Regions from separate parts of the Homo sapiens genome. Here regions 1 and 3 are each linked to region 2. Evidence: fine-mapped expression QTL. A gene starts in region 2. Each other region holds a variant in brackets. All regions are shown on one strand. Distances are from middle to middle.

What was found. PIP is the estimated chance that this variant, and not a neighbour inherited with it, causes the effect.
Region 1: its variant is fine-mapped to the expression of COA1 in blood mononuclear cells (TOPMed, PIP above 0.99).
Region 3: its variant is fine-mapped to the expression of COA1 in whole blood (INTERVAL, PIP 0.99).

The regions. Positions count from the first base shown.
Region 1 is chr7:43,611,975-43,622,306 of GRCh38, forward strand. It overlaps STK17A (serine/threonine kinase 17a), which reads left to right. Exons shown (of 7, transcript NM_004760.3): 4 at 7,623-7,749. It also overlaps a transcript of COA1 not described here. Among named protein-coding and RNA genes, the nearest start is that of STK17A, 34 kb to the left of the region's middle. The variant G/A (reference allele first, on the strand shown) is at 4,929.
Region 2 is chr7:43,724,786-43,735,117 of GRCh38, forward strand. COA1 (cytochrome c oxidase assembly factor 1) reads right to left here and starts at 4,738. Exons shown (of 6, transcript NM_018224.4): 1 at 4,644-4,738. RefSeq lists enhancers at 4,024-4,753, 4,754-5,482, 4,849-5,048, 10,259-10,332.
Region 3 is chr7:43,675,471-43,685,802 of GRCh38, forward strand. The region is part of intron 1 of COA1 (cytochrome c oxidase assembly factor 1); the gene reads right to left. Among named protein-coding and RNA genes, the nearest start is that of COA1, 49 kb to the right of the region's middle. The variant A/T (reference allele first, on the strand shown) is at 5,874.

The DNA.
Region 1 (10,332 bases), 110 kb before region 2:
GAGCATCAAAGGTGAATATTAAGTTCTTGAATACCAACTTTAAGTGTGTATTTACACAAGGAAATTATATCCCTTTCTCCTCAGTATATTCAGTATCAATCATATTCCTTTCTCTCTAATACACTTGGTTTAGAATTCTTTCCAGATTCAGTAGAGGCCTTGATGACGATGACAGGCCTTTGATGTTGGAAACTGGACTCTCCATGTTTCCTCGACCCAGAGGAACTAGAAGACAAAGTGGTCCAAAGGGTTCTCAGCCTTCCTTCTGCCTTCATGCCCCTCCATGTGCAGTCAGACATGTCTCTGAGTCAACTACTGGAGGGAGAGGATAGAGATGGGGTTGGTATGGCAACCATGCATGCGGGAGTGATTTCTACTAAAAGGTCATTTCCAATTGGCCTCTGTGAGTCTGGATGAAGTGAGTCTGCTGTCCTCTGTCTTCGACAGTGTGTGCTCATAATGTTGACTCTTGGTCTCTAGAAGCGTTTGAAAGACTAGGCTATTTTTTAAGAAATTATTTTCCCACATTGCCTCAAAGCTAAATATATTATGTTTTCATTCTCTAAAAACTGATAATCCCAATATGTATGGTAATTTTGAATTATTAGGCTATTTAGTCTCCATGCTGGTTAAAATGGGAAACTCCTGTCCCTGTGACAGAAGTTAGTTGGAAGTTAAAACAACTGTTATAGTTGCTTCTATTAAGGATATAATTGACGCTATGGGAAATACACTGCTTAGCTTTGGTGCAGAGCCTGAATGATCAATTTGCCAAAAGACTGATTCACTGAAGACTGTCAGCCAAATATCTTAAATAGAGCTGGGAAAGTTCTTGGGGTGGGGGAGGGAGTAGCAGATGCAGATTTAGGAGTCTGTAAAAGTATGAGTCCATACAGCCACAAAAATAGAAAAGACAAGCCATGATTAAGAGAAAACCCATTCGTTTAATATATAAAATGTTGCAGAAATTGCAAATCTGAGAAACAACAACCCTGGCAAAGTCAGAACAAAACCAACTAAAAGTACCCAAACAGTCTCAATAATTTGGTGAATTAGTCATTCAGTACAGCGGCCTGGTTTTAGTCCTGTCAGAGGGAGGGAGGACTGACTAAAAATAGCACAAAGAAATCTGGTCTTAAAATCTATTGCTCTTTTTTCTTCAAATGGTGTTGTACTGGTTCAGTCTTTCAGCAGTGTTAGTACAGTCAGCCCTCTGCATCCATGGATTCAACCAACCACAGGTTGAAAATATTCAGGGTGCAAAAATTCCACAAAGTTCCAAAAAGCTAAACTTGAATTGGCCCCCCACCAAGTATTTCATTGAATCCACACAAATGAGGTGATGTGTGGTATTATAATAGCTATTCTGAGTAACCTAGAGATGATTTAAAGTTTACAGGAGGATGTGCTTAGGTTATATGCAAATACTGTACCATTTCCTATCAGGAACTTGAGCATCACAGATTTTGGTATCTGCAAGGAGTCCCTGAACCAATCCCCACTGATACCATGGGACAACTATACTAGGATTCTATCACTAACTTTTCCACCCAGTTATGCTCATGGTTAAAAGTAGACTAGAAGAAGGCCAGGTGTGGTGGCTCACACCTGTAATCCCAGCACTTTGGGAGGCTGAGGTAGAAGGACCACATGAGCCCAGGAGTTTGAGACCAGCCCAGGCAACATAGTGAGACCTCATCTCCACAAAAAATTAAAAAAATCAGCCAGCCATGGTGGCACGCGCCTTTAGTCCCAGCTACAGAGGAAGCTGAGGTGGGAGGATTGCCTGAGCTCAGGAGTTCGAGGCTGCAGTGGGCTATGATTGCACCCTGCATTCCAGCCTGGGGAACAGAGTGAGATCCTGTCTCAAAAACTTTTTTATTAAAACATTAATTTCTAAAAATTAATTTCAAAAAAAGTAGCCAGAAGCTGGGACTTTCCATATGAGATTTAAATTTGAGCATCAGTATATTACTTGAAAGCAGGGGTAATAAAAACATTCCTAAACAGTCCCCCAAATTAATTTAGATGGGATTATTAACCTATTTCTCTACTCTAACCTGGGTTTTAATAGTTAATATACTAGAACTTTAATTGTCTGATAAAATGTTCCTTAAAACCCTGCCCATGACACCCTAAGCCTTATTGAGCAGGTTAACCTCAACTTTACAATGATCTTAGCCGCCAAATCTTCTCCAGTGGTGATTGTTCAGTAAACGTTAAATGGATTATGTACAAAGATGAAGATACCGAGATAAATAAAAGACTTCCCTACAGCCACCATCTATTTACGGACCGTCTGCAGGTTTTCTGCCTATTCCACTGTTATCACCTCTCTATTGATTGACCTTGCTTCTTTCTCTCCCTTACTACCTGGGATTCATATATTTTAAATAGAACTAGATTTTGTGTGCCACAACTTCTTTATAATGAACTGGATTCCCTAGAAAGGAAGTTTAACTAAATTGTAAATGCTGAGGTACTTAGCTTTGTTTTCAGGACATGTATTTCGGCTTATTGGAAGTAGATATATTTCACCATCGAAGAACTAACAGAGCTTATAGTCCTGTAATTGTATATATATTTTATTTAGAGAAGCAAAGTCTATTTTTAAAAATAGCCCTGTGGTCAAAATTGGGCACAGTTAGTTGGTAAAGGCCACATAATAAATATTAACTGAAATCCCATGAAATAGCTCTGATTTTATGAGAAATGTGTTTATTCTAGCAACCTCTCTCTCAGTTGTTTAACTTCATTTTTAGAAAGTCTCTCACATTGGTGTATCATAGATGCATGTAACAGGGCCTAGACTTCTCATACAATAAGATTTTAATAATTTGATCACACTGATTTAGGATTTACAACATTACCACCAAACCAATTAGTTTTTGCATAGTAACTAAAGAAAGCATTTCTCAGGGAATATAAAGTGTAAATACATAAAAGGGAAAAACATTTAAACTATTTTAAGGGAACAAATGGTATTTAAGAACATTCATAGAATGTACATGTTTACTAATCACAAGAAAATCTCAAGATTTGGTGAAGATTTTCCCTAGCAGTATTTCACCTGGCATTTTGCGTGTACTCAAAAGGGCAAAACATTCAATTATGAATATGTATCACTGAACCAAAGCCCTCCTATCAAATTTGCCTGAATAATAAGACATTTTGTGGTTACTATAGTTTTTGTTTTGTTTTTTGTTTGTTTGTTTGTTTTTGATAGGGTCGTATTCTGTTACCCAGATTGGAGTGCAGTGGCACTATCTCGGCTCACTGCAACCTCTGCCTCCCAGGCTCAAGTGATCCTCCCACCTCGGCCTCCCAAGTAGCTGGGACTACAGGTGTACACCACCATGCCTGGCTAATTTTTTGTATTTTTGGTGGAGACAGGTTTTCATCATGTTGCCCAGGCTGGTCTCGAACTCCTAAGCTCAAACAATCCACTCACCTCGGCCTCCCAAATTGCTGGAATTACAGATGTGAGCCACTGCGCCCAGCCCTTTTGTTGTACTATAGTATTTTATTAACATACGAAAACTAAAATTGCCTTGAAAAGTCTGAGGACTCATAGTCATGATGGTACATAGGTGTTTTTTTCGTGAAGAATTAGCTAGAAGCTAATTAACAAAGAAAACGTGGCCTGCCTTCTGCCATTTACTCCAGAATAGCCTACAAAGCCCTGTGATCTCCTAGCCATTTCCTTTCCAACCTCATGCCTCCCACCACTCGTACCCCTTTTGCCTTGTGCTGTCGTCCAGCCACACAGGATTTCCTGCAGATGCTCCACAGCAGTACGGCCTCTATACTTCTCTTCCCTCTGCCTGGAATGCTTCCTGCTTACTCCAACCCCTCCAGGACACTGAGCTGTGACTGGCTCTTTTTTAACATTGTCCTCTCCTCCCTCAGGTTGCCTTCTTAGAGAGGCCTTCTCTGACTCCCCTAAAGATAACATGCCCATGCACACACCCCAAGCAACCACTCTCGCCCATCACCCTGCTTTGAGTTCCCCATAGTGCTTAAAGCGACCTGAGGTGTACTTATTTGTCTTAAGATGCAGGGCTCCAAAAGAGAGGACTGGTGTCTTGTTTTCTGTTATTTCCCCAGGGCCTAGCTCATTAGGCAATCAATAAATATTTGTTGAAAAAATGAGGAAATCTTTTTACCCTTCAGGGTCTGCTCACATATCTCCTCTGTAATTTTCCAGGGCAGAATTAATCACTCTGATATATTTATCGCCTGAGCACTTTGTATATATTGCTTTCATGGTGCAATTCACAGAAGAGTGACTTGAGCCTGGCAGGTTCATCTATTTTCTCTTGATTATAAACTCTGACAGTAGGGCGTTCTTATTGCTAATATTTATACTACCACTAGTCCTAACACAAAATAGACACCCTGTTAATTTTTTTATAGTTATGTTTCTTCCATTCATTCACCCAACAAATATAAATGTGTGGTAGGCACTGATCACAGTGACAAAAGAGTAATCAGTACTGTGGCTTCTGTCCTCATGAAGCTGTAGATTCTTCCCGTTCTCTGAATTCAGACTGATAAACCTACGGGCATTTTCATAATAGAAAAGGGTAGGAAGGATGGTTGGATAGAAGGTAAGACCCTTTTTAAAAAGAGGGACCGTCTGGCCGGGCGCGGTGGCTCACGCCTGTAATCCCAGCACTTTGGGAGGCTGAGACGGGCGGATCACGAGGTCAGGAGATCGAGACCATCCTGGCTAACACGGTGAAACCCCGTCTCTACTAAAAATACAAAAAATTAGCCGGGCGTGGTGGCGGGCTCCTGTAGTCCCAGCTACTCGGGAGGCTGAGGCAGGAGAATGGCCTGAACCTGGGAGGTGGAGCTTGCAGTAAGCCGAGATCGCGCCACTGCACTCCAGCCTGGGCAAAAGAGTGAGACTCCGTCTCAAAAAA[G/A]GAGGGACCATCTATGCCTCAATTTCGTTTTTCATATTGTAGCCCCTCTCATCTATGGAAATTGTTGTAATCTGCTTCACTACCATCTTAGGCCTTCTCACCAAGTTGAGACTAGGCAAAGAAGAACAGAAAAAAGCGTTCTAGACTGAGGGAATACCATATACAAATTCACTCTTGTGAGAGGGAGCATGGCAAGTATGAGACTGGAAAGTGTCCCGTGGGACCCAGCTTCATGGAGCCGGGGGATCATGGCATATGATGAGTCTGGAGAGCTAGTTAGGCAGAAGCTGGACCTCAGGACATGCACACCATGCGAAGGAGTTTGGAGGTTACCTAAGAGCAATGGGAGGCTGTGGAAGGGTTTAGGAAAGGGGACAACAGATCCAATTTATATAATACAAAAGAACCTTCTGGCTTCAATGTGGGCAAAACAGATCCTAGCAAACCTTTGAAGAGGCCATTGCAATAGAGCAAGAAAGGTAGCTTTAATTTTCCGTAGATGGAGAGAAATAGGCAAAGTCTAGAAATGCTTGGAATTTAGTATTTAAAATCAACTATGGTGACATGTTAGCTAAATGGAAGAGCGGGGAGGAAAGGAATGGCCAAGATGATTGTTAGTGTTCTCTCCTATTCTGAGGGATGATCATAGCATTCACTGAGACGCCTGTCATTGGCATAGGGAGAATATGATTTAGGAAGGAAAATAGGAGTCTGTTTTTGGTCATGTTGAATTTGAGGTACCTTTGAGACATCAAAGGGGAGATAATAGGTAAGCAGCTGGTTGAAGAGGTCTGAAAGAGAGAAAAACATTGTGAGTCTTAAGGTGTAGGTGATATTTAAGCCTTGGGTGCAGATCATGCAAGCTGAGAGTTTGGAGTAAAAAGAGGAAAGGCCTCAAGATCAAGCCTTGAGAAACCCAGCATCCAGTGGACCAGGTAAAAGAAGGTGGCCCATCAGAGGAGATGGAAGACACAGCCAGAGATAGGAAGAAAGCCAGGACAGTGTTTTGTCATGGGAGCCAAGAGAAAGATAACATATAAACAAGGAAGGAGTGGTTAACTTTGTCAAACACTGCTAAGGGAGGGGTCCAGAAAAAAGCATTGAAGAATATCACTGGATTTTGTGATTTGTAGTGGAATGAGAGGACAGAAGTCAGATGGAGGGGCAGAATATGAATGGAAGGAAAGGAAATGTGAACATTCATTCTATACATCTAGAGGACCAATGTGATGGAGACAGAAACAAACAGCTAACAGAACAATAGAGTAAGCATGCTGTGTACACCATGCTGTGGAGCAGGGACGGGGCAGCCATTAAGCCCTCCCTGGAAGGAGCAGGGGAGGCCAGGGCAGGCTTTACAGAGGAATTGGTTCTTTATTGAGACCCATCATGCATGGAATGAGGGATGAGAATAAATCTGTCAGGCAGAAAAGGGGAGAGGGCGTCCTGAACAAAGGCAGTACGTGTGTAAAGGCATGAGATGTGGGAGTAGCTGTGTTATTTAGGGATTACAGACTGTTTGATTTGGAGCACAGATTGCCTTTGGAGCCGTGACAGATTAATCTTGAAAAGGAAGCAGGGGCCCAATCTTAAAACACTGGGTGTTAGAGTGAAGTATTTGTAATTTACCAGTGTTTCTCAGCTTACCTTTGGAAATATTCTTAATGGCAGAAAACATTAAGTGAGGACCCTTTATAATGCAAGCACAAACTTTCCTTTCAAATTTCGTGTTTTAAAAATTTAATGAATTTTACATTCTAGTCCATAATATATTTGCTTGTCTTTTTATGTGAAAGTATCTTAGGTTATTTTCCACTGGGTAAAAATGACTCCATGGATATGAACCTCACTGATTCTGTGGCTCTGGGGAGCTCTTTCCCATTACTGTACATGTCCTCACCCCACATATCCCCACTCACAAGTCCAGAGAGAACTTAGGGTAGAAGTCATCAGTATGTAAGTGGCAGCTGAAGCTTTGGAAGTAGATGAAATCGCTCCAAAATAGAATGCAGAGTGGTGGGAGAAGAGGGCCATGCAGCGAGAGATCCTGAACAACACAAATATTTAAAAGGAGGACAGAAGGAAAACATTGAGAAAATTGTGAGGGATCTGTAGAAGAAGGAAGAGACCCAAGGTGGAGAAAATGGGGAGGAATTTCAACAATACAAGGATGCTTGACAGTGCCCAGTGCTACAGAAATCATTGCATGCAAAATAGTCCCTGAAAGACACAGACGGGATTTGGTGGGTCTTTGATTATTGAAGTTATTGTGACCTTAATGAAGGCAGATTCAGTCAAGGGGTCAGAAGAGATTTAGTTGCACTGAGAAAACAATACCAATTGTGCTTGACCATGCTTTCAAGAAGCTGAGCTTTGAGGGAATAGTAGGAGCAAGCGTGCTGCATGCAAGGAGATTCAGGATCATGGGGAATGGTTTCCATAAGGTAGGGATAGAAACATATTTATATGCTGAGGAAGAGCCAGAGTAGGGGAAGAGATTGAAAATACAAGAGAGTACAGGCCTGCTGCCTTATACATAGGCAATAAATTGTAAAAATATTTCTTTAACAAATGACTGTTTACTGTTAAATTCCTCAGTCTCAGTTTCATAGGTGAAATATGTTTTATGGGCTGCATGTTTTGTGTACTTAATCATAGTTATATTGATTTTTGCGGGGGTGTATTTTCTTTTAGCCTCAGAATATTCTGTTGACAAGTGAATCTCCATTGGGTGACATTAAGATTGTTGATTTTGGCCTTTCAAGAATATTGAAGAACAGTGAAGAGCTCCGAGAAATTATGGGTACCCCTGAATATGTGGGTAAGTATTCATAAAAGTAGTTTTGTTCTGGGGTCAGGCATCACCTTCATTAGGGGACTTGTCCATGTGGCATGACTCATAGTGGAGCCAGCTATCTACTATGTTGAAATTCTACCATCAGAGATCTATTCCTTTGGATTACATTTTACAATGGAAAACGTTCAAGAGTAAGATACCAAATTGGTGATCTCTTCACTATCTCTTCACTACAGAGCTAAGAGAATTTGAAGGGATTACTTCTAAAAGGAATAGGAGAGGATTTTCTTAACAAAGTAGGATATTAGCTTATCTGAGGGTGGGAGGATATTTAACAAGTAAGGACCTTTAAGGATGTTCTGGTTGATAACAAACATTGACAAAGGAATTGCCAAGTCTGAGGCTCCATAGAAGTGTGGAGCAGAGAGGGCATTTGGTTGGATCCATGGTTGAGTGCTTCTGGCAGAAAGAAAAAGGAGCTTAAACATTGAAGGTAGCAGCAAGAAAGCAGCTGAATGATGATACTCCATGGGTGTAGGCGTATCATCAAAGAAGTCAACTATTACTTTCTTTGATAGACTGAGGAAAATTGGAGTTTGAAAGATTAATAGTTTGATGGTCTTTTTAAGGTATCTGTAGAATAAGGCTGTGAAACTGAGAGGTTGTGACCAGAGATTAGATTATTAATATTTAGGCCAAGTGCAGTGGCTCACGCCTGTAATCCCAGCACTTTGGGAGGCCAAGGTGGGCAGATCACTTGAGGCCAGGAATCTGAGACCAGCCTGGCCAACATGGCAAAACCCGTCTCTACTAAAAATACAAAAATTAGCCAGGCGTGATGGTGTGCACTTGTAGTCCCAGCTACTCGGGAGGCTGAGGCAGGAGAATGGCGTGAACCTGGGAGGCGGAGCTTGCAGTGAGCCAAGATCGTGCCACTGCACTCCAGCCTGGGCGACAGAGTGAGACTCCGTCTCAAAAAAAAAAAAAAGAATATTAATATTTAAAATTTCAGTGGTGAAATAGCTCTTTGTAATTATGAGGCCTTGGATATAAGGCTGGAAAGGCAGTTTTTTAGACCAGGAAATCAAGAAGCTGTGAAGGTAGGCTGTCTGGGTCATGGACATCAGTGTGGAAGTCACCTAGGCTGCCAGCAGACCTGGGAGAAGAGGAGGGCGGCCGTGGCAGGAATGGAGAAGGCTGTGGCCTGGGCCTGAGGGAAGACTCTGTGCCTGAGGGTAGAAGTGTGAAGTGAGCAAATACAGGCTAGAAGAGGGGGAATGAAGAGAGCAGGGTCTCCTTTCAGAGAAGAGGGTAAAAGGAGTGTGTAGTTCTTGAAGGACTGAGGATGTTACAAGAAAAGAGCTATCCGGAGCACAGAAAGACTCAGGAGGGCCGATAGGGTTGAAGAAAACAAACCTGTATGGCAATGATAGTTCAAAAAATAATTCAGAGATTTTTTAAAAGATCCTTAGTTAATTAGATAATAAAAGATGCCACAGGCACAGAAACAACCTTTAAAATTTTTTATATATTTTAATGGGCCAGAATACTTAATTTTCAGTACACTGACTAATATGCGTCATGACCACTAAGTTAGTTTTGGGGATGTGACTTAATAGTGTTTCTTTAGGGAAAACAGCAACCCAAGTGTTTTAGCCAAATTTAATGGGTACCATTGTAAGCTCAAATACACAAGACTGCAGAATGTAGGTCTGTGAGCTGAAAAATCAAAATAGTAATTATTGCCCTGAATGAGGTGGGTTTTTGTTTTGTTTTAATGCTTTCTTTGTTGTTGTTTGAGAGAGTCTCACTCTGCCACCCAGGCTGGAATGCAGTGGCACCATCATAGCTTCCTGCAGCTCCCAACTTGAGCTCCTCCTGCCTCAGCCTCCCGAGTAGCTGGGACCACAGGCACGTGCCAGCACAGCGGGCCAGTTTTTTGTTTGTTTTTTTGGTAAAGATGGGTCTCACTGTGTTGCCCAGGCTAGTGATTTGTTTTAGAGCTTTCTGTTCCTTAGTAAATTTTAAATTTTCTATCAAGAGCCTTTCCCCATCTCAAAACATTATAATGGAAGTACAAGCTCAATCCAAAAAGAAAAAAACTAAAAATGATTCAAAAGTACATAATACAGAAAAACAAAGGGACTCTCCTCTTTTTCCTTCCGTGACTCACCTTTTAAAAGGTGAGTTTATGCCTCCCACAGTCATTTTACATACACACAGAAACTGGTGTGAGTTCTGGCCCTGTACTTGCCATCTATGTGACCTTGGCCCTTAAATCTCTTTATACCTCAGATTCCTCTGTCCATAAAAAGGGGCTAGTAATAGTACCGACCTCATAGGGAATTTGTAAGGATTTCATTGGATTTGCTGTACAAAGCCCTTAAACCAGTATTCAGCACATAATAAGCACTCAAAAAAGTAAGCTATTGGTATTTCCTGTACCCTTCCTCCCACAGTCTTGCTATGTGGTCTGTTTTACTGTTTCTTCCCCGGTAATTTGGATGCTATGCATTTCATTTTTAATTTCCTAGTCACTTCTTTTGAAACTTTAACATTCACAACCTCTGTTTCTCACTCAACCATTTCAGAAATCAAAATTTAGGA
Region 2 (10,332 bases):
AATAAACCAGACTCAAAAGGACAAATATTTTATGATTCCACTTTTATGAGGACCCTAGAATAGTCACATTCATAGACAGAAAATATAATGGTAGTTGCCAGGGACTGGAAAGAGGGAGGAACGGAGATTTATCATTTAATGGGTGCAGTGTGTGGAGATAAAAGTGCTCTGGGTCGGGCGCAGTGGCGCACGCCTGCAATCCCAGCACTTTGGGAGGCTGAGGTGGGCAGATCACCTGAGGTCGAGAGTTCAAGACCAGCATGACCAACATGGAGAAACCCCGTCTGTACTAAAAATACAAAATTAGCTAGGTGTGGTGGCGCATGCCTGTAATCCCAGCTACTCGGGAGGCTGAGGCAGGAGAATCACTTGAACCCGGGAGGTGGGGGTTGCGGTAAGCTGAGAACACGCCACTGCACTCCAGCCAGGGCAACATGAACGAAACTCCATCTCAAAAAAAAAAAAAGAAAAAGAAAAAAGTGTTCTGGAGATAGATGGTGGTTATGGTTACACAACAATGTTAAAGTACTTAATGGCACTGAACTGTATCTTTACAAATAGTTAAAATGGCCAATTTTATGTTATGTATATTCTATCACAATTTTAAAAAAGAAAAGACAAAACACTGAAACAAGAAACACACAGTTCTAACTGGAATCAAGCCAAGGGGAAAGAATGAAATCTTGGCCATTATATGTAAACAGAGAGATGCAATTTTTTTCTGGAAGCTATTGTATATCACTTTCCTTAGATTCTCAAAATGCTCAGTTTCTAAAAATACTTTTACTACTGGCTGGGCGCAATGGCTCATGCCTATAACCCCAGCACTTTAGGAGGCCGAGGCGGTGGATCACCTGAGGTCAGGAGTTCCAGACCAACCTAGCCAGCATGGTGAAACCCCGTCTCTACTATAAAACAAAAAAATTAGCTGGGCATGGTGGCAGTCACCTGTAATCTCAGCTACTCAGGAGGCTGGGGCAGGAGAATCACTTGAACCCAGGAGGCGGAGGTTGCAGTAAGCCGAGATCGCACCATTGCACTCCAGCCTGGGTACCAAGAGCGAAACTCCATCTCAAAAAATATATATATTATATATATACTATATATATTACTACTACTGCCTTTTAACCAACAAAATTAAAAAAATACAAAACAATGTTAATAGGATTTTATAAAACTACTTTTTCCAACATGCCCCAAACAATACAGAACACAATAGCTACACTCAACCTCTGCATACATTAAATAATCTTCAAATAAATGCCTGCTAGTATGAAAAAAGTACCTACTATTTGGTGACCAACTGTCCAATATGGCTCTCACAAATCTAATGCAGCATATGAAACATGAACAAGAGGATAAAAGAATAACTTCTTGGAGTCTGTTTAAAATAGAGAGTTAAATGAACAAAGTTGAAGCAGATCATGGCACATTTTTCAAGGCAGAGAGACAGGGAGGCAACAATGTCTGAAACAATGAACACTCTTAGGCTAAATATACCACCAGGGACTCAGATGTCACACTAACTGGGAACTACTATGTCAGTTTCTATAACTCCTATAATTAAAGAACAATATCCTAAACTATTAGCCAGAAGGCTTTTAGAGGCAAAGTCCTGACTACACAAAAATGTAAAACAATATAGTAAAAAATATAAAACAAAGTTAACTAAATAGATTGAAAATATCTGCCACATATCTAACAGTCAATGGCTTAAATCCCTACACAAAGAACTCCTAAAAATCAATAAAGACAAAACTCCATACGGAATGGCAAATTATAAAGTTTTTCCTTGCTTCATTTTTCAAGTCTTAAAATGCTCCTCACGGGTTCTTTCACAGCATTTTTCCTGGGCCTGGCCTCCCACGTAGTTGTTGGAAAACCATCACTCTCTAAACCACAGCCACATACCCATAAGGAGGTCTCCAGGGCTACAAAAAATTAATCTCATGTGCTTTTCATTTAAAAGAACGGTAGCATAATCTAAAAGACTATCACATATCTGATAAATGACTTGTATCTAGAATATATAAAGAACTCTTGCAACTCAATTACAAAAAAGAACCTAATTTAAAAATGGGCAGAGGATCTGAGTACACATTTCTCCAAAGAAGATAAATAAATGGGCAATAAGCACTTGAAAAGATGCTCAACATCATTAGCCATCAGGGAAATACGATTTGAAACCATAATATTTTCAAAAAGTTAGGAGATTTTTAATGGTCGCAACACAAAGAAAAGATGAACGTTTCAGGTGGTGGACATACTAATTACCTGATTTGATCACTACACATTGTATACATTTATCAAAATATCACTCTGTAGTCCCTAAATATGTACAATTATTACATGTCAACGAAAAAGAATGAAAACACAATGACACACACTTCACACCCACTGGAATGGCTAGAATCAGAAAGACAGATAATGACAAGTGTTGGCAAGGAGTGAGAAATCAAAACCCTAATACACTACTGGTGCGAATGTTAAAAAGATGCACACTGATGCTTTGGAAAACAGTCTGACCATTTCTTAAAATGTTAAACAGAGCTACCATATGACCCAGCCATTTCACTCCTAGGCACATACGCAAGAGAAATGAAAACATGATGTCCACACAAAAACTTGTAGGTGAATGTTCACAGCAGCATTACACATAATGGCCAAAAGGTGGAAACAATCCAAACGTCCACTAACTAATGGAAAATAAATCGTGGTAATACCCATAAAAGATTAACCAGCAATAAAAAAAAGTACTGACACATGCTATTAAATACAACACAGATGAACATGAATGTTAAGTAAAAGAAGCCAGTTGAAAAAGACCACATGCTGTATGATTTCACTCACATGAATAATCCAGAATAGTCAAATATACAGTCAGTCAATTCATAGTTGCTTAGGGCTTAGAATGGGGAGTGGGGATGGGGAAGTCAGGTGAGCCTGCTGAATAAGTACAGGGTTTCCTTTTGGAGTGATGAAAATGTTCAATTGTTCCAATATGGCTCTCACAAACTGAATGCAGCATATTAAACATGAACAAAAGAATACAAGAATAACTTATTGGAGTCTGTCTGAAATAGAAAATTAAACCAACTAATGAAGGTGAAGAAGATTACAGCATATTTTATGATGATGGTTGTACAACTTTGTGAATGTACTAATGTACTAATTACTTTTAGGTTTTCTTTCTTTTTTTTTTTTTTTGAGATGGAGTCTAGCTCTCTCGCCCAGGCTGGAGTGCAGTGGCGCAATCTCGGCTCACTGCAAGCTCCACCTCCCGGGTTCACACCATCCTCCTGCCTCAGCCTCCCAAGTAGCTGGGACTACAGGCTCCCGCCACCACGCCCGGCTAATTTTTTGTATTTTTAGTGGAGACGGGGTTTCACCGTGTTAGCCAGGACGGTCTTGATCTCCTGACCTCGTGATCCACCCGCCTCGGCCTCCCAAAGTGCTGGGATTACAGGCGTGAGGCACCGCTACGTTTTAAATGGTGAACTCTACGGTAGGTGAACTATGTGTCAGGAAGCTGTTTTATTTTTTTAAAGGACTGAAGACTTTTGTTTTGTGTTTTGTTTTGTTTTCATTTTATCCCGTTTTTAAAACAGTGCCTAGCAATATTATGAATTCAATCGATTTTGGCTAAATGCTAGAACAAAAATTAAAACTTGAGTAAACCATATAAAACTTTGCCATATCTAAAGTTATTAAATTACCGTAGACTGGCATGGTGGGAGCATAATATGAGTGTACCTGCAGGTGTGTTTTCCATGAAAGTAGCAAAGACTGAAAAACTCAGCAGAATCAAGACCCTGTAGGCCCTTGAAGTTAGGCTAAGAAATGTGTATTATCCTGAAAGCAACGGGAAGGCCAGGAAGATTCTGAGGACAGAAATAACACAATCTGATATGCGTTTTAAACGTGCAGGTGTAAGCGGAGAGTTGCTACTTCTATCCAAACGTGAGCCACCTCAGAAATAAAGCAATAGCCCTCCGGGGAGAATGGGGAGGAATCAGGGGAAGACCGGAGAAACAGGTTATCAAATTATCAGAATCTCCATAGATTTTTTTAAATTACACAGCATCCACCCCCAAACACACATACAGACTGATAGGCACTGATATATACATAAATACATCCAATGTCCCCTACACAGAAAATCACTTTTGCAGTCAGCCCCTGTTGGGAGGGTTTTTCTGTTATTCAAGTGTGGTGGGGACAAAAAGTATTATAACCACTAAACCAGGTAATTCTTTCCTACAATAATTTGGGCAGCGTACTCCTCAGGGTGTTGAAATTTAGCACTACCAACAAAAGTGCCCAGTCCCAACTCTTCGAGAGGACCCTAACTCTTTACAGTGTGCTGTTGGGGATGGTCAGCAAAAACTGCAGGACAAGGTCAAGGTTAGCTCGACACAGCCTCCTAACTCCGAGCGGACGGAGCCACTGAAGGTTACCAGGTGCCAAAGAAGCTGCGCAGGGAGGCCGCGACCCGGCGCCGGCGCGAACCTCCGCGATGTGACCCGTGAGGGAACTCTCCAAGAAGCAGCGCACCCCGCGCGCAAAGGCGGCCCCCCGAATTGCAGGAACAAACGCTTCTTGCTGGGGGGAAGACGGAGACTCTTATACCGCGGGAGACTAACCTGTGAGCAACAGAAGCACCACGCTACAAAGAGCATGACGAGTTCTTCCAGGCTTGGGAAAGCACGGGTAAATGCCCGCGGTCCTGCGCGCCAGCGGGGAGCAGTAGAGACTTCCGGCGTCGGCTGCTCGCAGGGCTAGAGCGTCGAACCGGGACAACCGGAGGCTTCAGCTCACCTCGGATTGTAAATGCTAACACGGGTCCTCCGGCCGGCTGATCCAGAACTTAGGTCGCCGGGACGTGTGGCTTCTGCTTCTCAGACGCTCGGACTCGCGCCGGGAAGGGTTTCGCCTCCCCTGGTCCCCGCTTTTTTTTTTTTTTTCTGCGTCCGGTTATTGCAAATGCATTCAGTCCAGTAGCACTAGCCCAGGAAATATAAGCCACCGGCTCACGTTGCTCCTCACAGGTATGCGGCGCTTCCGCTGGCCTCCAAGGACACGAAGCCCCGGGCCGTCTGGCCCCCCACTCTAGCACTGAAATTCCTGCCGCCCCGTTCAGCTGACAAATTTGGCAGCACTAAATTTTATTTTATTCGACAAATTAAGTACCCAGTTAACACCAGGGAGTAACGGGGTAAGAAAATTTCAGAAGGCTGGTGGATAATAATAGCATTTACCTCATAAATTTGTTATGAGGATGTGAAGCACTTAGAGTAGTGTCTGGCAGTTTGTAGGCGCTCAGTAACTGTTAGCTGTTATTATTTTTATATTGATTATTCCATAGTCACCACTATTATCACCTTAATGTCAAGCTTGAAATCCAGTATCTTTCCTCTGCGAAGCCATCACTCCAAGACTAATTAACTTTAGACTGGGGCATTCTTCTTTAAACTCTTGCTCACACATCCCTATCAGAAAAAATATATATATATTTACATGTGTCATGTATGGCATTAATATATTATGCATGCTATAAAACTCACAAGACATCAAACTTTTGATGAGGTAAAAACAATTTTTAAACTTTTTTAAAAACTTCTAACAGAAGTTCTTTTCTTCCTCCACAACAATTAGGTTGCCAAACATACATTCTATCACTCTGGAATCCACTAGCTAAATGAGCACATTATCAAAGCAACCTACCGCTGAATTCTGACTTCCCAGAATGTTTCTTTTCCAAAGAATTAATAGAAACTAATCAGATTGTGAAGTGCTCGGCCATAAGGACTATTTAAATGGTTCTTAGAGAAAAAGAAGAAATAAAATAGGCATCCACTGAGTAATATTCATTGATGCAACATTGATTATTGACTTATTACATTTTCAAAGAGATTGAGGTTATAATACCTTACACCAAGCTTAATATTTCAAAGAATAAATCAACTAATAAAAAGCTTATGAGGTTTGGTATATGTGCATTTCATACAACGTTCATGAAAATGAACCCGAGATCAATTAGCTCCCGTTCTGTACCAGAAAGAGAAATATGTTTACTTTGTAAGTAATAAAACATTAAATAGGCTTTTCTGACCATTTGCTTGAAAACTCAGAACTTAACATTTCTATCACTGGACTTAAATCTGCTAAAGTTTTCGTCTAAATTTTACATTAAAAACAAAACTCTATAGTGAATAATGTTACCTATCCAATATTCATTTTCCTCTAACTCCTTTGTACCAAAATCCTTATTTTATTCAGATAGCTGCCCTGTTCCCAGAATCAAAATGATACTGATTAAACCAGTCATCACACAGAATTTTTTTGTCGTCTAAATTTTACATTAAAAACAAAACTCTATAGTGAATAATGTTACCTATCCAATATTCATTTTCCTCTAACTCCTTTGTACCAAAATCCTTATTTTATTCAGATAGCTGCCCTGTTCCCAGAATCAAAATGATACTGATTAAACCAGTCTTCACACAGAATTTTTTTGGAAATAGTTGCTAATCAAGGAACGAGTATATGACCCAGGTTGGCGCAATCTGACTGAAGGAAAGGACCTCTATTTCATGCTCAGGAGAAAGTTTCTGATATACTGTCCTCTTGACGTCGAAACATCTATCCCACACTGTCATTAGTAGCCATCTTGCCCATCACAAGGAATAAAACTGATGGACCAATGCTGAGGACAACTGAACAAGTTATAAAACAATGTCCTTGGTGACATCATTCCAAACCTGGAGCTCACCCTGTATCTGAATGCCTTGTAGGAATGTCTAATAAGTTTCCTTATTGTTTTTGTTTTCTGTTTTTCTGAGACTGAGTCTCACTCTGTCGCCCAGGCAGGAATGCAGTGGCATGATCTCAGCTCACTGCAACCTCTGCCTCCCGGGTTCAAGCAATTCTCCTGCTTCAGCCTCCCAAGTAGCTGTAACTACAGGCATGCACTGCCACGCCTGGCTAATTTTTGTATTTTTAGTAGAGAAGGGGTTTCACCATGTTGGCCAGGCTTCTCTTGAACTCCTGACCTCAGTGATCCACCCACCTTGGCCTCCCAGAGTGCTGGGATCCTTACTGTTTTCTGATAGAGATGCCATAAAGATTAAATGGGTTAAAATAGTGCTGGTCATATTGTAAGTATTTTAAGTGCTTAATAAATTTTAGTTATTATTAACTCACCTTAAGTCAGGGATTCTGTTTCTTATAGCCAAAATTACCCATCAAAATACACATTCTACCTCTCTTTTTCTATATATTTAAAGAAAGGGTCTGTTTTGATACTTTTAAACTAAGGAGCCAGGGAAGGGGTAGGAGGTGAAGAGAGGAGGGGCTGACTATAATGCTGTATGAGGGCTACTGTTAAGTGGTTAAATGGCTGCTTTGAGATTCACTCAAGAGCAGCAGGATCCTATAACTATCAAATCTGAATGAGGTTACTACACATCGTAGTTGTATGTATACATGAAAGTATCATTTCCTGCATATTAATATTGTGATCCACTGCCTTACTAAGTTGCTTTATTGTTTGGAGTTCATTCTGGTAGAATTTCTAAGATTGCAATCTTATCATTGAAATAGTTTTACCTACTTCTTTCCAAGTTTTATACCTCTACTTTCTCATATCTAATTGTTTTGGCTAGTATCTCCAGTAAAATATTTAATAATAATAATGACAGTAGACTTTTATGTCTTATTCCTATCTTTAATGAGATATCTTTAGAATTTTCCCATTAAGCATGATGCTGGTTTTAAGGACTGAAGTAGACATCTTTTATCATGTTAAGGAACTATCCACCTATTGAGAGAAAGAAGAAAATTTTGGCATAAGAGCTTTGAGAAAACAAAGCATTGAGCGTGCCATAATGTCCTGTCATAAAAATAAGTAAAAGTTAGACAGTATTTACCTCAAAGACACTGAGAAAATTAACATTAGCTAGGTTGGTATGAATGTCCTTTCTTGCTTATCTTACTACCAGCATGAAATTCAGTCCTGCCTAGTTTGTTTACAAGAAATTCACCTGTGATATCCTGATTTTTAACCCTGAAAAAGTTATTTATCTCTTACAATATGTCCTGTTTAATGTAAAGTTAATGCTTGCTCTACATGTTTTTTGTTTTTTGCTTTTGTGTTTGCTTTTACATGTACTCCAAGCACATGCTCTACATGTTTGTTATAGGAAATAATGTGCACCTCCTATAATTTTGTTATAGGAAATTGTAGCTGTTCAAATATGCTGATTGCAAAAAATAAAGGACATTTTATAATAATTGGGTTAGATCATCAAGAAGATATAACAGTCTTAAATTTGTATGAATCTGGCCAGGCGCAGTGGCTCACGCCTGTAATCCCAGCACTGTGGGAGGCTAAGGCAGGCGGATCACGAGGTCAGGAGTTCGAGACCAGTGTGACCAACATAGTGAAACCCCATCTCTACTAAAAATACAAAAATTGGCCAGGCGTCGTGGTGCGCATCTGTAATCCCATCTACTCAGGAGGCTGAGGCAGTAGAATCGCTTGAACCTGGGAGGCAGAGGTTGCAGTGAGCCGAGATCGTGCCACTGCACTCCAGCCTGGGCAACAGAGCGAGACTCCGTCTCAAAATAAAAAAAATTGTTTGGAACTAATAGCAGAGCTTCAATAAATGTGAAGCAAAGACTGACAGGACAATTCAAAAAATTGGAAATTGTAGGCTGGGTGCGGTGGTTCACACCTGTAGTCCCAGCACTTTGAGAGGCCAAGGTGGACGGATCGCGAGGTCAGGAGTTCAAGACCAGCCTGACCAACAGGGTGAAACCCTGTCTCTTCTAAAAATACAAAAATCGGCCTGGCATGATGGCGTGCACCTGTAATCCCAGCTACTCAGGAGGCTGAGGCAGGAGAATTGCTTGAACCCAGGAGGTAGAGGTTGCAGTGAGCCGAGATTGCAGCACTGCACTCCAGCCTGGGTGACAGAGTGAGACTCCATCTAAAAAAAAGAAGAAAAAAGAAAAGAAAAATTGAAAATTGTAGTGGAGATTTTAACATTCATCTCTCAGCAATTAATAGAAAAACTAGACCAAAAAATCAGTAAGTGCATAAAAAACTGGAGCAACACTATTAACCAACTTGACCTGTTTAATATTTATAGAACACTCCATAAATAGCTAAATGCACCTTTTAAGTGTGTAGAATATTTTTATGCCAGTTCATAAACATTGATAAACTTAAATACATTGAAATTGTATAAAGTTTTTTGTCTTACCATAATTATAAATTAGTAACAGATATCTGGAAAACACAAATATTTTGAAATTAAGTAACACACTTCTTTTGAAATTAAGTATACATTTTGACTCATGGGTCAAAGAAGTAATGGTAAAGGAAACAGGCGTATTTTGAAGTGAATAAAAATAAAAATATATATCAAAAGGCATTGAATGCAGTTAAAGTAGTGCTTTAGAGAGGAAAATTATAGCATTGCATTCTTAATATAAGGAATAAAAATATAAGAAAAGAAAAAGTATAAGTTAAATTATTTTAGCTTCCACTTTAAGAAATTGGGGGGAAAATTAAAAATAATAGAAAATGAAATAATAAAGATAATTTTGGAAATCAATTAAGTAAAAGAGCTAGTTCTTTTTTCAGTTTATTTATTTTTGAGATGAAGTCTTGCTATGTTTCCTAGGCTGGTCACAAACTTCTGGGCTCAAGCAATCCTCCCACCTCAGTCTTTGGAGTAGCTGGGGATTACAGGCACTCAACACTGCACCCAGCTAAAAAAGCTGGTTTTTTTAAAAGACCTGTAGGGTCTAGCCCTACGGGGCTTAGCGGGTGTTCTCCCCATGTGCGGAGACAAGAGATTGTAATAAATAAAGACACAAGACAAAGAGATAAAGAGAAAGCAGCTGGGCCCGGGGGACCACTACCATCAAGATGCGGAGACCGGTAGTGGCCCTGAACGGCTGGGCTCGCTGATATTTATTGCATACAAGACAAGGGGGCAGGGTAAGGAGGGTGAATCTTCTAAGTGGTTGACAACGTGAAGCAAGTCACATGATCATAGGACAGGGGGCCCTTCCCTCTTAGGTAGCCAAAGCAGAGAGAGAGAGAAGGCAGCATACGTCAGCGTTTTCTTCTATGCACTTATAAGAAAGATCAAAGACTTTAAGACTTTCACTATTTCTTCTACTGCTATCTACTACGAACTTCAAAGAGGAACCAGGAGTATGGGAGGAACATCAAAGTAGACAAGGAGCATGACCGTTGAAACACAGCACCACAGGGAGGGGTTTAGGCCTCCGGATGACTGCGGGCAGGCCTGGATAATA
Region 3 (10,332 bases), 49 kb before region 2:
GGATAGCATTAGGAGATATACCTAATGCTAAATGACGAGTTAATGGGTGCAGCACACCAACATGGCACATGTATACATATGTAACAAACCTGCACATTGTGCACATGTACCCTAAAACTTAAAGTATAATAATAATAAAATAAAAAAAGAGTAAGTGTAAATCCACCCTAATTTGTAGCATAGAGGTATATTAATTACAAACTTTAATTTTTACATGTAACAAATTACCTGCTAAACACCTGAGGACCATTCACTACTCTGAATTGTAGAGAGATGTCAAGATTACACTTTGAAGGGAAAAAAGGTGCTACTGGTTCAAGAGAACTTACATTAAAAAATCTTATCAAGGGATCCTATACTGAATTCTAACATCTAACATCTAATTCTAACACTAGATTAACATCTAAGCCAGATGTTAATCAATGGCTCACTTGTACTATTTAAATAAAAGAATTATGGTATTATTCTGATTCCTTTAATATTAAGAGACCCTTAACAGACCCCTAAAAATTACTACCCATCGGTGATAACTGCTTCTTATTCTCACTTATGGGAATCCTATCCCTGCTCCCTCATAAACAAAGTAGCTACTAATAAAGAAATCTCGTAAAAGAAATACAACTTAAAACATTAAATTTAAAATGTTAGCAGCATACCATTTTAAGAAAGTACGATTAGTATCCACTTTGTTTTCAAAATTTTAAAAATAGGAAAGTTGCCCCTCCATCAACCTAATTAAACATGATTAAATAGGTGACATTTTAAATAGAAGACCTAAGCCTTACAGATTTCCTACTGGGTGAAAAACTTACAAACAATAAAAAGAAATAAGGTTTACTGCAGCACTATTCACAATAGCCAAGATATGGAATCAACCTAGTGTCCAACAACAGAATAATGGGTAAAGAAAATGTGGTATATATACGCAATAGAATACTATTCAGCCACAAAAAAAGAATGAAATCCTGTCATTCACAGCAACACAGATGGAACTAGAAGACATTAAGTGCAATAGGCTAGGACAGAAAGTTCACCACCACATCTTCACTCATGTGCAGAAGCTAAAAAAAGTTGATCTCATATAAGTAAAAAGTAGAACAGAAGATTCTAGTGTTCTAGTGTTCTAAAGCACAGTAGGATGATTATAGGTAACATAATATATAGTTTCAAACAGCAAAAAAGAGGATACTGAATGTTCCCAACAAAAAGAAATGATGTGTTTTAGATGATGGATATGCTAATTACCATGGCTTGATCATTACACATTGTACACATGTATCAAAATATCACATTGTACCCCATAAATATGTACAATTAATATGTGTCAATTTAAAAAAAAAAACTTCAGAACACATCCAAAGTTGGCTGAAAAAAATAACTGAAAATTTTAAACTATATGGTCAATGGTAGCAAAGAGAATTTATCACTAAGAATTGTGTAAGAAAGCTCTACACTCTTAAAATAATAGAGGTACAGTATGCATTAGTATTTTTTCTAGCTTAATTTATTTATGATACTATGGTTGTCCTTGCCAACTGTTAAGTCCCCTTGGGGTGGGTCTCTTCATCCTTTGTACGATGCCTAACAGATCAAAATGCTTAATGTTCCACTTTCTTGGCCTTAAGAATTCTTTGCTTTCTATATGTTTTTCTTGTAAGCATTTTCAGATTTCTCATGTTGAATATTAGAAGAAAGTTCATGGAAATACTATAGAGAAAAATACTCAATTCTTTCTAAACATAACTTTTACAGCATTGGTAAAGAAACTGTGGAGTCTTTAAAAACTACATTATTCCTCAACAAATGCTCTTTTAAAACATCTGGGAAAGAAACCCATTTCAGTTAACAACATAAAAGGAAGGACAAACTCTAACACCGTTTATTTAATATATGTGGTGTATGAACTTATTTAATGACCAAAAAAGGAAAAATTATTATTTAGTAAGTTTTGGGATAATAAAACAGAGGTTTGCCAAATAAAAGAGAGAAACAGGAATGCTTTAATGATTCCCATATCCTTGACAAAAAATTGTATCTTTGTTCTGTAGCTGGGCTCAGTGGCTCACGCCTGTAATCCCAGCACTTTGGGAGGCCAAGAAGGGTGGATCACCTGAAGTCAGGAGTTCGAAATCAGCCTGGCCAACATGGTGAAACCCCACCTCTACTAAAAATACAAAAATTAGCTGGGTGTGGTGGTGCATGCCTGTAATCTCAGCTACTCAGGAGGCTGAGGCAAGAGAATCGCTTGAATCTAGGAGAAGGAGGTTGCAGTGAGCCAAGATCATATACCACTGCACTCTAGCCTGGGTGAGAAAGGGAGGCTCTGTCTTAAAAAAAAAAAAAAAAAAAAAAAAATTGTAATTTGCTCCTCTAACAAGTCTTTTAATACTTAAAAAGGTTTATAATCTAAGATGAAATTCAGCCTACTGAATTTAGTTATACAAAATATATACATATATAGATACAGATATGTGCTAATGAGCTGTACCTTTTTCCCATGAAAATTGCAACCAAACAGTATTTAAAAACTAACAACACTGACTACAGGCAATTTCCCTCCTAGAGGATTCAGGTAGCACATGTGTTCTCATCAAGTTGATTTGAAACACTAAATTTTTCCTATTACTAATAACAGTGAGTTGGGTTTGAGAGATGAACCTTCCTGTTGAAAACAACTTAGTAATTTGTATAAAGTATTTTAAAACATCTTTTCAAAAGAACTGAAAAATTACAAGATAGTAAGAAATTACCAAGTAAAAACTAAAAAGAGAATTCAACAAATAACACTGGGAAAATAAATATCCACATGCAAAAGTATGAAGTTGGACCCTTAGCTTACAACATACACAAAAATTAACTCAAAATGGATCAAATACATAAACATTAGGGCTAAAAGTATAACACTCTTAGAAGAAAACATATGGGGAAAGTTCTGTCACATTTGATTTGGCAATGATTACTTGGATATGATATCAAAAGCACAAGCAGCAAAAGAACAAAATAGACAAAACTGGACTACATCGAAACTGAAAACACTATCAACAGAGTTAAAAGGCAACCCACAGTACTGGAAAAAATATTTGCAACTCACACATCTGATAATGGACTACTATATAGAATATATAAAGAACTCCTAAAATTCAACAACAAAAAATAGGCAAATTCAAAAATGGGAAGAGGATTTGAACAGATGTTTTTTCAAAGAAGATATGAAATGGCCAATAGGCATATGAAAAGATGCTCAACATCATCAGAAAAACACAAATCAAAACCACAATAAGACACCACTACTTCACACCCATTAGAATGGCAATTATTTAAAAAAAAATAGAAAATAACAAATGTTGGCTAGAATGTGGAGAAACTGTAACCATTATGGCATTACTGGTGAGAATATAACATGGTGCAGCTGCTGTGGAAAATATGGCAGTTCCTCAAAAAATTAAACACAGAATTACCATATGATCCACCAATTCCACCTTTAAGTCAAAGAAAAATCAAAAGGAAAATTTATAAGTATCTTGAGGGCCAGGCGTGGTGGCTCACGCCTGTAATCCCAACACTTCTGAAGGCCAAGGCGGGTTGATTACTTGAGGTCAGGAGGTCGAGACCAGCCTGGCCAACATGGTGAAACCCCATACAAAAAATTAGCTGGGCATGGTGGCGTGCGCCTGTAGTCCCAGCTACTGGGGAGGCTGAGGCAGGAGAATCACTTGAACTCGGGAGGCGGAGGTTGCAGTGAGCCGGGATCGCAGCACTGTGCTCCAGCCTGGGCAAGAGCTAAACTCCATTGCAAAAAAAAAAAAAAAAAAAAAATGCTAAATTTTATGTTATATTTTACCACAAAAAAAAAAGTACAAGGAGAATGAAAACTCAGCATGAAAAGCAAGTTCTGAAACCACATTTCCTCTAAAGTATCTTTATTGGTCATGGGAAACTAGAACCTATGTTTTAAAAGATTCTCAGGGTGACCAAGATAGAAATAAAGCTGAGGGCCACACAACAAGGGCCATCTAATCTGAGATTCTCCTCACAATAAACTGGAATCCTAAAGGGGCACATCCTCACAGTGAGAATGACATGAACTAGATTATGGTCTAACATCACACTGCTTTTCTCAAACTTCAAACTTGGGTCTGTAATCATCCCCTGGACTAGAATACTCCCAAGTTTCGGTCAGACACAAGTGCACACTGTCTAAGTACCTACGCTGTGGACTTAAAATCAGTCTTATAAATAATTCTTCAAATGCAATATCCAGGCCCCAGTCAAGGATAGTGGAGTATGCAAGAAATGTAGGAATAAGAAGCAGCAGAAAGGAAAAGGGGTCAGGAAAGAACCTTAGAAAGTGGATTATCAGATGCAGATTCTATGTGTTTTCTGTGACAGAAGAAATAAAATGACAGGTTGGAAACATTTAGCAGAGAACTAAACACTATAAATAGTAACAGATTTCTAAAAGAAAAAATAGAGACTCTAGAACTAAAAATAAAATATAACTCCAACTAAGAACTGAATGGAAAGGTTTAACAGATTAGATTCACCTTCAGAGATAATAAATAATGGAAAGACAAAAGACAAGTCTAGAGATATGCTGGAAGTAGTTTGAATAAGCTTTCAAGAACCAATTATGTGTAGCTCTTCCTAATTCTGCATCAGTAAAGTCAAATTGGTTGCCTGAAACTACCCTTGATAAGGATATTTATACTATGGAAATCAACAAATGCTACAAATCAGGGCTTCTTTTTCCCCGGAGAGCCATTTCACCAGCACACACTTGGAAGTTACCATACAGAATTTGGGACAGGGAGACAAAAAAAAAAAAAAAAAAAGTAAGTAGGGAGGAGAGCATAAGAAATGTAAAGGGTATAAAAGAGGGCCCAAAACGTCTTTAATTAAAGTTTCAAAAACTGAATAGAGAAAAGAAACACTTTATCAGTTAGTGGCTTTTTCCAGAACTAATTACCAAATCATAGATTTAAGAAGCCAAATGAATGCATTGCAGGATAAATAAAAAGAAATCTGCAATGAAGTAAGACTGACTTCTATATCATTAGAGTAGCCTATGTGTTTTTAAATCTATGAGTTTTTCCCTTTATCTCCAAAAATTATAAATGCTACCAGAATTGAGACAGACAGAGATTTATTTTCATTAATTTTGCCTACAATAAGCCTACGCTGTGGAACTACAGCTTCAGAACTTTTCAGCTGAAGTGGCTGGGCCATGGTGGCTCACACCTGTAATCCCAGCACTGTGAGGGGCAGAGGCAGGAGAATCACTTGAGCCCAGGAGTTCGAGACCAGCCTGGGCAACATGGCAAAACCCCATCTCTACAAAAAATACAAAAGAATTAGCCAAGTATGGTGGCGTGTGCCTGTAGTTGCAGCTACTCGGGAGGCTGAGATGGGAAGATGGTTTAAGCCCAGGAAGCAGAGGTTGCAGTGAGCAAAGATTGCCCCATTACACTCCAGCCTGGGCAATATAGTGAGACCCTGTCTCTGGGGAGGGGGGTACTTTTCAGCTCAAGAAAGTTTCCTTCTGCTTTTATATTTTGCTTCTGTTCCATTTATTCTGGTTTCTCCATTAGGAACTTATTCATCAGTATGGCACTTCTCTGTCTTCAGTATCTGTCATTTTTACCCTCATCATTTCTGTCATTTTTTTCTCCTCCTAAAAAAATCTCAAATAAATACTATAGGATTGACCCATTCATCGTATATAGGATTGACTCCATTTTCTGCAGGATCAGCTCTGCTATGTGCAACTGCCATTACAGATTTTGGCTATTGCATTTTTAGATTGTTGTCACTGTTTTCTTTTGGTCATCTTTATTCCAGCTCCTTTTAAAATCTCATTCTGATTTTTTGTTATA[A/T]CTTTGTTTTGGTTTCCTAGAGGTCATATTTTTTGCTCTGTTACTAAGAATAAAATCTGACACTTCTCACAAATATCTTTTGTACATCGTAATAAATCATATTCAATATTATTTTTAAGATTTTCTTCCGCATCTTTGGGGAAATGGTTCCCTTCTTTTACGGAGATATCTTTCACACAGATTTCTTTCATAGTCCCCATGAAAATCATCCTTGCAAAAATAAGGTACAATTTTTAATGGCAGGGTATTGTAGACTGCCCTTGATTCCCATCACTATCAATGTGGATGGTGAAAATTTGCTCACACTTAATTTGGTTAGGTTTTAAGTGTACAGGCTGACACACACAGTCCATGGCTGAATTTATAGTACTAAGCAGGCAGTACAACCAAGTTGGGCTGATTTAAAATCTATTATTCCTTTCTTCTCATATTATGAGAATTCATTCCTACATCAACAGGAACATTCTGTAGTTTGTCTTTTAACAGAAAATAAATGATAACCTGAAAACCCAAAAGCACACTCCTTTTAAGGTTCTTCTTAACACCACATCTACTGCTACATCACATCCCTGGAATGTAATATCCTAACACCTTCTTTTCATTCTCTTCCATATTGCACATTGGAAATTTAGTCTCTGAATAGATGTATAAAAAATAGTGTGGAACGTGCGGGTTTGGAAGAGTTGGGAGAGAGAAAAATCTCTAAGGAGGTTAATGGGCTTTTAATATGTAATAAAATACATAATATGAACGAAATAGTGCAAGTTCCCATAGTCATTCATGGTAACCCATGTCTCCAAGGTATGAACAACAGGAATAGATCAAAGCCTCTTCCTACCCACTTCCCACGTTAATCTCCTGTTTTAGAAGTCAAACCATAAACAGACCACTAAGACTTTCTTAGTCTACTCCAATGTAGTAAGTAGTTAGTAGAAACAACTTTAAAACTGAGAAATTATTGATCACTACTTTTCTCAATGCCATTATGGAACTATACGCATATTTTAATGAGAAACTGGAAGAAAGCATATCATACATGGCTAGCCTAAAGTAAATATTTTTCAATAGGTACATTTTTTAAACAAAGAAGTTGATATTGATCTCTGTTTGAACATGGTCAACTAAAATGTCACGGTGACAGGTACTATTACAGAAAGTGAAGTAATCCGAATTCTTTCACAACAGAAAGATGAAAATTGAGACATAATTATTGTAAACATCTGAAAAGTATAAATGTCTATAATGATTTTATACATAATGATATAAACACTGATTTCTTCTCCACATCACTTAAAGTTTGAACATGACATTTTAGGATGATTTTTTTTAAAGTTCTACTCTATCGAGTAAACACAGAATTTGTCATTCTAGATAATCAAGGAAATGACAAATGCATTTCAAAAGCATTTAATTCATAGGTAGCTATAAACAGGCAAGCAAGGAAAGCCAAGGTTATTTTGAGGAGACAGCCTACCTATACAAGCTGATAGTTTGTTTTTTGGGGTTTTTTGTTTGTTTGTTTTTGAGACACAGTCTTGCTCTGTCGCCCAGGCTGGAGTGCAATGGCACGATCTTGGCTCACTGCAACCTCTGCCTCCCAAATTCTAGTGATCTTGTGCCTCAGCCTCCTGAATAGCTGGGTTTACAGGTGCCCACCGCCACGCCTGGCTAATTTTTGTAGAGATGGGGTTTTTAGTAGAGATGGGGTTTCACCATGTTGGCCAGGCTGGTCTCAAATTCCTGACCTCAAGTGATCTGCCAGCTTCGGCCTCCCAAAGTGCTAGGATTACAGGCATGAACCACCATGCCCAGCCACCAACTGATACTCTTGAGAACAATTATCAGAATCGTTAACTCCTCAAATGTGGAAAATAACTTCAAATTAAGAAAAGTCATATAGTTGTGTTTTTTTTCCTTTTTACATATCATAATGATCATTTCATTAGTAAAGTAACCCTGAGCTCACTATTTTTAACATAACTATGCTCCCAAAAACATTTAGTAGTTGGCCAGGCACAGTGGCTCACGCCTGTAATCGCAGCACTTTGGGTGGCCGAGGCAGGTGGATCACGAGGTCAGGAGATCAAGACCATCCTGGCTAACACGGTGAAACCTCATCTCTACTAAAAAAATACAAAAAGTTAGCCAGGCATGGTGGCAGGCACCTGTAGTCCCAGCTACTCGGGAGTCTGAGGCAGGAGAATGGCATGAACCTGGGAGGTGAAGTTTGCAGTGAGTCAAGATTGCGCCACTGCACTCCAGCCTGGGCGACAGAGCGAGACTCTGTCTCAAAAAAAAAACATTTAATAGTCTAATGAATTTCTCTCAGTAAGTAGTTCAAATTTAGTACCTTTACTATGTGCCAGGTACTGTTTTAAGTGCTTTACACATACTAACTCATTTCTCTGAAGAAGTACTATTATTATCACCATTTTAAAGATTGGAAACTAGGGGACACAAAAGTCAAGAATTTGCCAAAGTTTTTATTCTTGCTGCATAAGAAAGTCACCAAAATGCAACTTGAAAAAACAGTTTTATCATACGCATGAATTCTGTGGGTCAGTAATTTAGAGCAAACACAAAGGTAAGGAACAATGTTTGAGGTCACAACTGAAAAGACACAACAATTAGGGATGACTCAATGGGACCGGAATCATTTGAGGAAATCACTTACATGTGCGATTGTTGATGCTACTGTCGGCTAGAATCTAAACTGGAGCTGTCAACTAGGGCAGCAGTCTCCATCCATTTTGACACTGGGACCAGTTTCAAGAAAGGTAATTTTTTTTCCACAGAGGAGGCAGGGGGATGGTTTTGGGATAAAACCTTCCACCTCAGATCATCAGGCATTAGATTCTCATAAGGAGCACTCAAACTACATCCCTCATATGCACAGCTCACAACAGGGTTCGCACTCCTATAAGAATTCAATATAGCTGCTGATCTAACAGGAGGCAGAGCTCACCTCCTGCTGTGCGGCCGGGAGTGGGTGAATGGGATTGGGGACCCCTGAACTAGGGTCCTACATATAGCCTTTCTCTGTAGCCTGAGCTTTCTTCACAGCATTGCAGCTTCAGAATAGCCAAGCATCATACATGGCAGCACAGAGATCCAAAAGCAAGTGTCCCAGAAAACAAGGTGAAGGCTGCACTGCCTTTTCTGACTTAGCCTCAGTCATCGTGCATTACTTTCACCATATTCTATTGGTCATAATCTAGTTGTGGCTAGTCGTGAGCCAGTGCAAATTCAAGAGGAAAGGATAGAGACCCCTCTTCTCAATGAAGGCTATAAAGAGCAAGGGGTTGAAAGTGGAAAATAACATGTCTGGAAAGTACAAGACGCCACCATCTTATAGCAAAGATTCACAGTGCATGCTCTTAACTACCATACTTGACTGCTTGCTCAAAAAGTGGCACACTCTATAGTACATAAGAACAACACTCTTGACCAGATCTGACACTTTTGGGGTAGCCTGAAATACCATTCAGAATCTGAAATAGGCAATGGGACCCCAGAGAGACAGACTGAGCTCTGAAGAAACTTTAGACTTTATTATCTTCACATTCATCTCCCTCTGAAGCCATCAGTGAAGAGAGTGAGAGATTCTCTACCAAGAAAAACAAGGCTAGTTTTTCTAGCAGTGAAAACTAGCTCACTAGTTAGTGAGCAGTGGCTCACACCTGTAATGCCAATACTTTGGGAAACCGAGGCAGAAGGATCACTTGAGCCCAGGAGTTTGAGGCTGCAGTGATTCATAATTGCACCATTATAATCCAGCAGCCTGGGCAACAGAACAAGACTCCCATCTCTTAAAAAAAAAAAAAAAAAAGGAAAAGAATAAATAAAATGTGTGTCTCTTATAACCTCTCCACCATGGTCATTTCCAGTAGTGGCAAATTCCATCACAAAAATCATTGTAAATGCTCTGGAAGAGGCAAAGGGGTGCCCTATAGACATCCTACTCTCAAACTTGACTTCTCACCATCATCTGGTGTCCAACATTACAGATCCAACCCAAATGAGATTTTAATTTCTGACGTGTCATTAAAACATCTACAACACAAGATCTACATGCTTTACATATATATCAACAATTTTCTCATATCAGAAGGAAAGCTGCAATTCTAGGAGCAAGTTTCCAGAATCTTTTGGTTTGCGGTGGGGTGGGTAGGGAAAGTTGGGGAGCTATTCCAAACAAATATTAATTGATTATATCACAAGTACTTAATCAAAACTTACTGCTAATTCTTCTGCTGATTTCAAATGATTTGGAAAGACTAGAGTAGAATTGAGAGAGCTGGAGAATCAGGCTATGAAGACCCTCTCCAGTGTTAAATCTGTCAGAATCAGAGTCCTGGAACAAACCCAGACAAAAGCAAGGTACAAACTGTCTCACCAAATTAACACCACAACCTTCATTAGCAGCCAAGAAGACTGATGTTTTTTAAGTGGTAGGGTT